Linked DNA regions of Homo sapiens: region 2 is linked to region 1. The links come from fine-mapping of genetic effects on plasma protein levels. A gene starts in region 1. The other region holds a variant in brackets. All regions are shown on one strand. Distances are between the middles of the regions.

The links. PIP is the posterior inclusion probability: the model's chance that the variant is causal. The UK Biobank Pharma Proteomics Project read protein levels with antibody pairs (Olink). The fine-mapping took linkage between variants from a reference panel, not from the people measured, so its PIPs are less certain.
Region 2: its variant is fine-mapped to the plasma level of the TMEM25 protein (UK Biobank, PIP above 0.99).

Annotation. Positions count from the first base shown.
Region 1 is chr11:118,528,990-118,534,387 of GRCh38, forward strand. It overlaps TMEM25 (transmembrane protein 25), which reads left to right and starts at 2,203. Exons shown (of 9, transcript NM_032780.4): 1 at 2,203-2,245; 2 at 2,786-2,882; 3 at 3,161-3,472; 4 at 3,928-4,218; 5 at 4,431-4,562; 6 at 4,868-4,898; 7 at 5,040-5,140; 8 at 5,277-5,366. The coding sequence starts at 2,813. It overlaps TTC36 (tetratricopeptide repeat domain 36), which reads left to right. Exons shown (of 3, transcript NM_001080441.4): 3 at 1,665-2,004. The coding sequence ends at 1,927. It overlaps TTC36-AS1 (TTC36 and KMT2A antisense RNA 1), which reads right to left and starts at 1,786. Exons shown (of 3, transcript NR_120574.1): 1 at 1,515-1,786. RefSeq lists silencers at 665-959, 1,481-1,760, 1,881-2,320, 2,351-2,450.
Region 2 is chr11:118,628,564-118,631,443 of GRCh38, forward strand. It overlaps PHLDB1 (pleckstrin homology like domain family B member 1), which reads left to right. Exons shown (of 23, transcript NM_001144758.3): 6 at 1-87; 7 at 2,644-2,880. Among named protein-coding and RNA genes, the nearest start is that of MIR6716, 14 kb to the right of the region's middle. RefSeq lists enhancers at 2,264-2,772, 2,773-2,880. The variant C/T (reference allele first, on the strand shown) is at 2,443.

The DNA.
Region 1 (5,398 bases):
GATTAAGGAACAGTTAATGAGAGCCTACTATGTGGCAGTAGGCTGGTGCTGAGGACACTGAGATAAAAGGTATATGGATCACCAACATTTATATAGCAGTCACTATGTACCAGGCATTAATCACTTTACATACAAACTAGTAAATCAATCCTCACAACAACCCTAAAAAGTATGTACTATTGTTATCCCCAGTTTATAGATGAAGAAACTGAAGCATGAAGAGGCTAAGTAACTTGCCCACTATCATACAGTCAGGCAGCAGCAGAGCTGGGATGTCAACCAGGTGGTAGGGCTCGAGTGTGTGCTCTTAATCCCCACATGATACTGCTCCTCGAAAAGCTCCCAGTCCAGGAGGCAGGGCAGACACATAATTCTGAGACCAGCAAAACAAGTTCGAGAGGGGTCAGCGTGGGACCTGTTCCTGAAGGGCGAGTTTTGAAGGATGAGTGGGAGTTAGTTGGTGGGTGGAGAAGGTACAGTCTGTAGAGGTCCAAAACTCCTGCTGCATTCAGGTTATTCTAATTAAGTGAAGACAATGGGACCATGCTGGGGACCAAAGATGAGGCTAATGTGAAGGTATAAACCACGGAAACCTAGTACTACTTGACTGTTAGGAGCAGTGGTGACACAGGTGCTCCCAGAACCAGCAATGCCAGGCTAGGGAGTTTTGAGTCCACTCCAGGAACAATGGGAACCTCCCAGGAGCCCCTTATCCAGGCTTATCTGCCCCAGATCACTGGAGACAGCCTGCAGACCAAAACCCCAGAGAGATGCAGTGGTGATTCCAACTGGAGATTCCTCCAGACCAGCTCCTCCGAGGGAAACCAAGGAGTACTGCATTCTGAGCGCTTCTCCGGAGGCTCAGGCTCTTTGGGGGACTAGAGAACATGAGTGAATTGAAGCAGAGCCCGAAAGAAGCCAGCCTGGTGGACTTTAAGAAGGTGGCTGGCTGCCTGAAGTTCTGAGTTCAGAGTTCTGAGGCCCAACCCAAGTATTTTATGAGAATAATAACAATAAAAATGGTGCAGGCCAGCTCTGGCTCCAGGACCAAGGAAATTAGATACATGGAGATAACCAAAGAATGATGAAAGGCAATCAGTCCAGGATACAGGGGAGAGAGAAGGTGTTCTAAAGAAAGCAATGGAAAAGAGAAAACGGCCCTCAAAAGGAAAACAATGAGAAACTGTCTTGATTGTACTTGTAAGAAATGATTGTGCGGTTAATATTATTTTTTGAACCCTGACATTCAGAGTCAGTCACCTGGCACATAGTGGATGCTTAATAACAGGTGTGGAATAAATTGGCTGCTACTTGCCCGGGCAGTGGGCCAGACTCATAAACATAGTGGCCATTCAGAATCCTGCAACGTTCATGTTTTCGTGTATTAGCGGTGGAAAATAATAGGAACAAGGCGAGACCTGGACTTCAGTCCCAGCTCTGCCACTAAGTGGCTTGGCTGTAGAGCTTAACTCTTCCACAGTCTTCATCTGTGTAATGGGAATAACGATCCGTACCTCTAGCAGGTGCGAGGCGGGTTGTAAATGGCCACGCCCGGGAGCCGCAAGAACCACGGTGATCCGCGCGGCCGCAGGTGGGCTGGGGCTCGGGCAAGGCCGCCCTGGCCTCCGCTGACCCCCGCCCCGCCCGTCTCGTCGGTCCCGCAGGCGCCCTGGAGGATCTGGAACGCGCGGTGGAGCTGAGCGGCGGCCGGGGCCGCGCCGCCCGCCAGAGCTTTGTGCAGCGCGGACTCCTGGCGCGGCTGCAGGGCCGAGACGACGACGCCCGCAGGGACTTCGAGAGGGCGGCACGGCTGGGCAGCCCCTTCGCGCGGCGCCAGCTGGTGCTGCTCAACCCCTACGCCGCGCTGTGCAACCGCATGCTGGCCGACATGATGGGGCAGCTGCGCCGCCCCCGTGACAGCCGCTGAGCGCCGCGGACCCGGGCGTCCGCGGGCGAGGGGACGGGACTGGGCCCTGAACCAATAAAGCCGTCGGGCCTCACCGACTCCGCCTGCTCCTGCGTCCTGCCCGCGCCCGGAGAGAAGGGCACTCGGGGGTACTCGGCGCGGGCTGGGGACCAGCCGGGGGGTGGTGAGCCGCGGCCGCCCACCTGCCGGGTAAGGGCCCCTCGGGCCCGTGGTCGGGCATCGATTGGCCCCGCCTGGCGCAGCCCCCGCCCCTGCAGCGGACTGCGGTGCTCATCAGACCTGAGCAGTTGCTCCGGCGGCGCTCGGGGAGGGAGCCAGGTGAGCCGCCCCGGTGGCGGGGGGCGGGGGCGGGATGCTCGGCGACCCCACCCTCCGACCCTCTCCTCTTCCGCCGACATCCACCGGAGCCACCAACATCAGGAAAGGGGGCGTAGGGCGAGGGATGGGAGAGAGAACAGGGCAGGAGAGAGGATGGGAACAGGGCAGGAGAGAGAATAGGATTAGGAGAAAGGCGATCCCTTTGGGGGAGGGGCGCGTGGAGTATGTGTGTGAGTGTGCGTGTGTGCAAGGTGTGGTTGCACGGATGCTCGTTGCTTCTGCGTATCTGCGGGTGTGTGCCTCTTTGTATTGTAGCCTGGAGTCAGTGCTCGCTTCTGCGCCTGCAGGATGTCCATGTGTCTGCTGGGTGGGTCTGTGCCTTTGGGCTTTGCCGTTCGTGTCCGTGCCTTCGCCACTGGGGGCTGGTCTACATTTGCGTTTCCGTACATGGTTCTTTTTGTTTCTGGAGAGTAAATTCCTGGAGCAATTGCTAGGCCTGCCTGCTGTCACCTGGCTGACAGGCCCGCCCCCTTCTCTCAGCAGCCTAGGGCCTAGGCCCGGGCCACCATGGCGCTGCCTCCAGGCCCAGCCGCCCTCCGGCACACACTGCTGCTCCTGCCAGCCCTTCTGAGCTCAGGTACACCCCTGTTCAGTCGTTGACCAAGTCCTTCTGGGTTCCAAAGCCCCCTCTCTCCCCTGTCTGCACTTCTGTTTGGGTACCCACTCCAGGCCCCAAGCCCTGGAGTCCCTGTCCCCTTCACCCACCTACCCTAGGTCCAACCAGCCAGTCCCTGGTGAGAGGACTCAGGTGCCCTTTCCTTTGGCCTGCTGCTCTTCTCACTGGGCCAATTCCTGGTCACAGCACAGTACCAACCGTGCCTGAGCCCTTCCCAGAGGCCTCCTGCTGTGTTCCAGGTTGGGGGGAGTTGGAGCCACAAATAGATGGTCAGACCTGGGCTGAGCGGGCACTTCGGGAGAATGAACGCCACGCCTTCACCTGCCGGGTGGCAGGGGGGCCTGGCACCCCCAGATTGGCCTGGTATCTGGATGGACAGCTGCAGGAGGCCAGCACCTCAAGACTGCTGAGCGTGGGAGGGGAGGCCTTCTCTGGAGGCACCAGCACCTTCACTGTCACTGCCCATCGGGCCCAGCATGAGCTCAACTGCTCTCTGCAGGACCCCAGAAGTGGCCGATCAGCCAACGCCTCTGTCATCCTTAATGTGCAATGTGAGTGGCCCTGAGGTGGGCAGGGAGATAGGTTCTTTGCCCAGGGACCCCCAGCACCCACCAGGCAGGTGGTCCGCAGGACATTTAGCAGACACTTAAGCACTTTGCAAATATGAACTCATTTGATCCTCTGAGTAACCCCATGAGGTCATTACTATTGTCGTCACCATTTTACAAATAAGAAAACTGAGGCAGAAAGAGGTAAGCAATCTGCCCAGGGTGATGATCCCGCTGGTAAGAAGCAGAGCCAGGATTCACATCTGGGCATTTGGCTCTAGTATTTACACTCATAATCACTCCGAAATGCTGCCTCTCTGGCAGACCCAGCCATCCTGTTCCTCAGCATCCCCTCTGAGGAGAGGCCCAGGCCCCTGGCTCCCATCTGGGTTTGGGAAGAAAGGGCTAGAAGTATGAGGGGCTGTGGTGAGAGCATATTGGCCTCTGCTTTGTACCAGTCAAGCCAGAGATTGCCCAAGTCGGCGCCAAGTACCAGGAAGCTCAGGGCCCAGGCCTCCTGGTTGTCCTGTTTGCCCTGGTGCGTGCCAACCCGCCGGCCAATGTCACCTGGATCGACCAGGATGGGCCAGTGACTGTCAACACCTCTGACTTCCTGGTGCTGGATGCGCAGAACTACCCCTGGCTCACCAACCACACGGTGCAGCTGCAGCTCCGCAGCCTGGCACACAACCTCTCGGTGGTGGCCACCAATGACGTGGGTGTCACCAGTGCGTCGCTTCCAGCCCCAGGTGAGCATGGCCAGCAAGCGGCCCTGCAAAGCTTCAGGTGGGCTCAGGGGTCCCGTCCCCATACAGAAATGGGAATACTTGTTGCCCTGTGGTTGGGTCTTGTGGATGAACTGTCCCCAGCCACCCTGGGCAAGGAGGGCAGAGTAGTACCTATGGCATGTTGGGGCTGGGGCACTACCCACTTGGGACCTGACACAGAGGACATCCTCCAGGGCTTCTGGCTACCCGGGTGGAAGTGCCACTGCTGGGCATTGTTGTGGCTGCTGGGCTTGCACTGGGCACCCTCGTGGGGTTCAGCACCTTGGTGGCCTGCCTGGTCTGCAGAAAAGAGAAGAAAACCAAAGGTAGGCCAGGGACACTGGGGGCAGTGTGGATGAGGTCAGGCTGAGCAGCAGCCAAGACAGCAAGTGCAGCTGGGCAGAACCAGTCATCTCTGACGGTGGCAGAGCACTTCCAGGGGGTGGCCATGGGTACGGTGACATGCATCCCAGGTAGCAGGGTCAAGCACTGGGAACCCAGTCTCTGGCCCCAGGGCCAGGCCTGGGCATTTGAGAGACCCCTTGCCTGAGGGTCCTGGGTCTGAAAGGGTAGGACAGCCCAGCGTGGGAGGGCACACTGAGAATTAGGGACATGGTTTCTTTCTCCACAGGCCCCTCCCGGCACCCATCTCTGATATCAAGGTAACTCTTCCTTGGGCTGGGTGGACAAGCCTAACCGAAATGCAGGATGGGGACAGGAGGGAGCCTGGGGTTTCTGGTAGAGGCAGCCATGAGTGCCTGTGCCGGGACTCATATCCATCCCGAACTTTGTCCTCCCTGTAGTGACTCCAACAACCTAAAACTCAACAACGTGCGCCTGCCACGGGAGAACATGTCCCTCCCGTCCAACCTTCAGCTCAATGACCTCACTCCAGATTCCAGAGGTATATCTAGGGCCCTGCTCTTTGCCCCTGCTTAATCTCCAGAAGTGCTTCTGAGAAAAAGAACTTGGTGCTTGGGAGGGGCGAGGCCTCATCAGGCACACTCCTCGTCCTGAACACTGCCCTCTTTGTCAACCAGCAGTGAAACCAGCAGACCGGCAGATGGCTCAGAACAACAGCCGGCCAGAGCTTCTGGACCCGGAGCCCGGCGGCCTCCTCACCAGCCAAGGTACTGGGGAAGGGGCCTGCCACCCTCCTCCT
Region 2 (2,880 bases), 98 kb after region 1:
GAGATCAGTGACAATGAGGACGACCTCCTGGAGTACCACCGGCGACAGCGCCAAGAGCGGCTCCGGGAGCAGGAGATGGAGAGGCTGGTGAGCGGGTGCCAGGGAGGCTTGCCACTGTCCATGGCAGAGTCTCTGCCAGGGCTCGAGCAGGCCAGCTGGCAGAGCAGGAGAGGCCCTCAAACAGGGCTTCGGCTTCTCAAGGTTCCCCACCTCCAGGATACACTTTAGTGATCAATATCTTATGGTTCTGGTGCCGTGAAGAAGAAATTCCTTTGAAATCTCTAAGACTTTATTTTAAATTCTTGCTAATTTTGCATTTATTCAACATAGCATTTGTTTTAATGTTAAATTAAATTTCACATTGTTTACCTGAGCACAGTGAAGCTCTAGGAAAACATACCACAGGTATGGTAAGACCTCGAACCTCCCAGTTTGAGAAGCAGTTGGTGATCATGAGTAGGCTGAAGCTCAGAGAGGGGAATGGCTTTGTCCAAGGTCACACAGCAAGTTCTGGCAGAGCTAGAATTGGAACCCAGGTCCCCTGTCTGACTCTTTCTGAGACTTGTTCTTTAGAAAAGTACCTTGTCCTTCTTTTTTGCTTGTCTTTGGCCTCTACAAGTGGGTGGGAGCTGCTCATCCTGGCCCAGGCAGTATCATCTAGGAGTGCAGGTGGCAGGGTAGAGGGACAGAGCAGGATAGGCAACCCTGGCCTGACCGTTAGCCAGCCTGTGTAATTGTGACTGTGTGTGTCCATGTGCATGCACGTGGGTGCATGCAGGGGCTGGGTGTGGCTCTAGGCAGCTGTCCTGGAGATGGCATCTGAGCTGGGTGGGGGCCAGGATTCCCCAGATAGCTCAGGGAGCTTAAGGGGCTCTGGCTGGTGTGTACACAGTCGAGCCCATGTACAGAAGAATGGATTCTGCCCTCTGTCCCTTACGAGCAGAACAGGGTTCTTTGGAAGGTGGGCAGGAACCCTGGGATTGGTTTGAGGAAGAGAACCAGAACTGATGAGAACCAGAACTGAAGCATCTGGAGATGCTTTTGGAAGAGGTTGGGACAGTTTTGGATGAGGGTATAGGATTGTGTGTTTGTGTTGGATGGGGGTGAGATGAGGCGGATCCCATCTTTTCCTTTGCTGCATCTTCTCTTCACTGTTTTTGCATTGGTCTAGACGGGAATGCATGGCCATTCTAAGCTGGGGTCTCATCCTGGAGAGGGGGCAGTGAGCCTGGCACAGGCAGAGTGGCAGGCACAGCCTCCCCCAACTCCTCCATCAGTTTTCCCACCCCCATTCCCACACATAAGCACACATCTTACCACTAGTCCTGACCTGCCTCACCTGCCACTTTAAGTCTTGGAGGCTGCCCGCCCTGCCCCTCCCACCTCAACCAGGCTGCTTATCTGGGTCCTGGGGCAGGGGTGGAGGCACTGGCCCAGCCTCCCAGGTGCCGAGGCTCTGTTCCGGTTTTTTTTTTTTTTTTTTGCCATGGAACTGGGCAAGCAACAGGAGGGAAGCTGGGTAAGTGTATGAGAACACCTCTCCAGCCTTCTCTCCACTTCCTGCGGTTTGGGTTCATGGCCAAACTGTAAGTGATGAGAGACACTTGAGGAGGTCTAGGGACCCTAGAGAGCCATGGAAGCCTCACAAACCAGGCTTCAGGCCTATAGGTAGGCCTGCGGGAAAAGGCAACAAAGACCAGGAATGTGATTGTGTCATCCCTCCTTTACCTCCTAGGCCCCTGAGAGGTGACTGTATCTGGGTGGGTGTGTATGTGGAGAGGGGTGGATGAAGTGGTAGGGCCATGGGAGTACTCACTCATGGGCCTGGGCATTCAAGGACTGGCAGCAGCCCATCCTGCTGATAAACAGCCAAGGGCTGCCTGAGGGTAACTTGGAGCTGAGGTGGGGACAAAGAGGGCCGTGTCCTTGGTCTACCTCTTCTCCATGTATGTCTGTGGTTGGGTGTCTGGTCCCTGTGGGCTCATGGGTCTGTTTTCCAGCACTGTCTGTCTGCATACATGCCCACCTGTCTGTATGCTAGACTGTGTTTATCTGTGAGTGTGCATCAGTGTGCATTTGTGCATGTCAGGGCTGGTGTCTCTGTACTTGCCTATTAATGCAGGGCCAGGGCACATGTTGTATCCTTGTGTGCCTGTGCATCAGTGCTGGTGTGTCAGTATGTGTCCTTGTGTCTGTAGATCTGTGTGTACCTGCGTCAGGACGAGCAACTGAGTTTATCTGTGTCTCATTGTGGTCTGTAGTCTGCTTAACAGTGTGTTTCTGTATGTGTTTAGTGTGTTACTGTGGGTCCATTTGGTGTGTTCCTGTGTGTCCTGGGGTAGACTGAAAAAAGAAAGGAACAGGAAGATGGAAGGGGCTGTCCCAGAAGTGGGCAGGAAGAACCAGGCTGTTATGCCATGTGGGCATGTGGCACAACAGCCT[C/T]GTTCTTCCTGCCCACTTCTGGGGCACCTTGTTTCCCTCTGCCTCCCCTAGGTCTTGGGGTCAGGCCTCTCCTGACTTGACACTGATGTCCTAGCCCCCTGTAACCCTGCTCTCCCTCCTGACAGGATACTGAACCTGGCTCTATCCCCACCAGGGCTCAGCTTCCTCCCCTTCATGTCCTGCTCTGTCCATCCTCCCCAGGAACGCCAGCGCCTGGAGACCATCCTGAACCTGTGTGCCGAATACAGCCGGGCTGATGGGGGACCTGAGGCTGGGGAGCTTCCCAGCATTGGGGAGGCCACCGCAGCATTGGCACTGGCAGGCCGGAGGCCCTCACGAGGCCTTGCAGGGGCCTCTGGGCGGAGCAGCGAGGAGCCTGGCGTTGCCACCCAACGCCTATGGGAGAGTATGGAGCGCTCAGATGAGGAAAATCTCAAG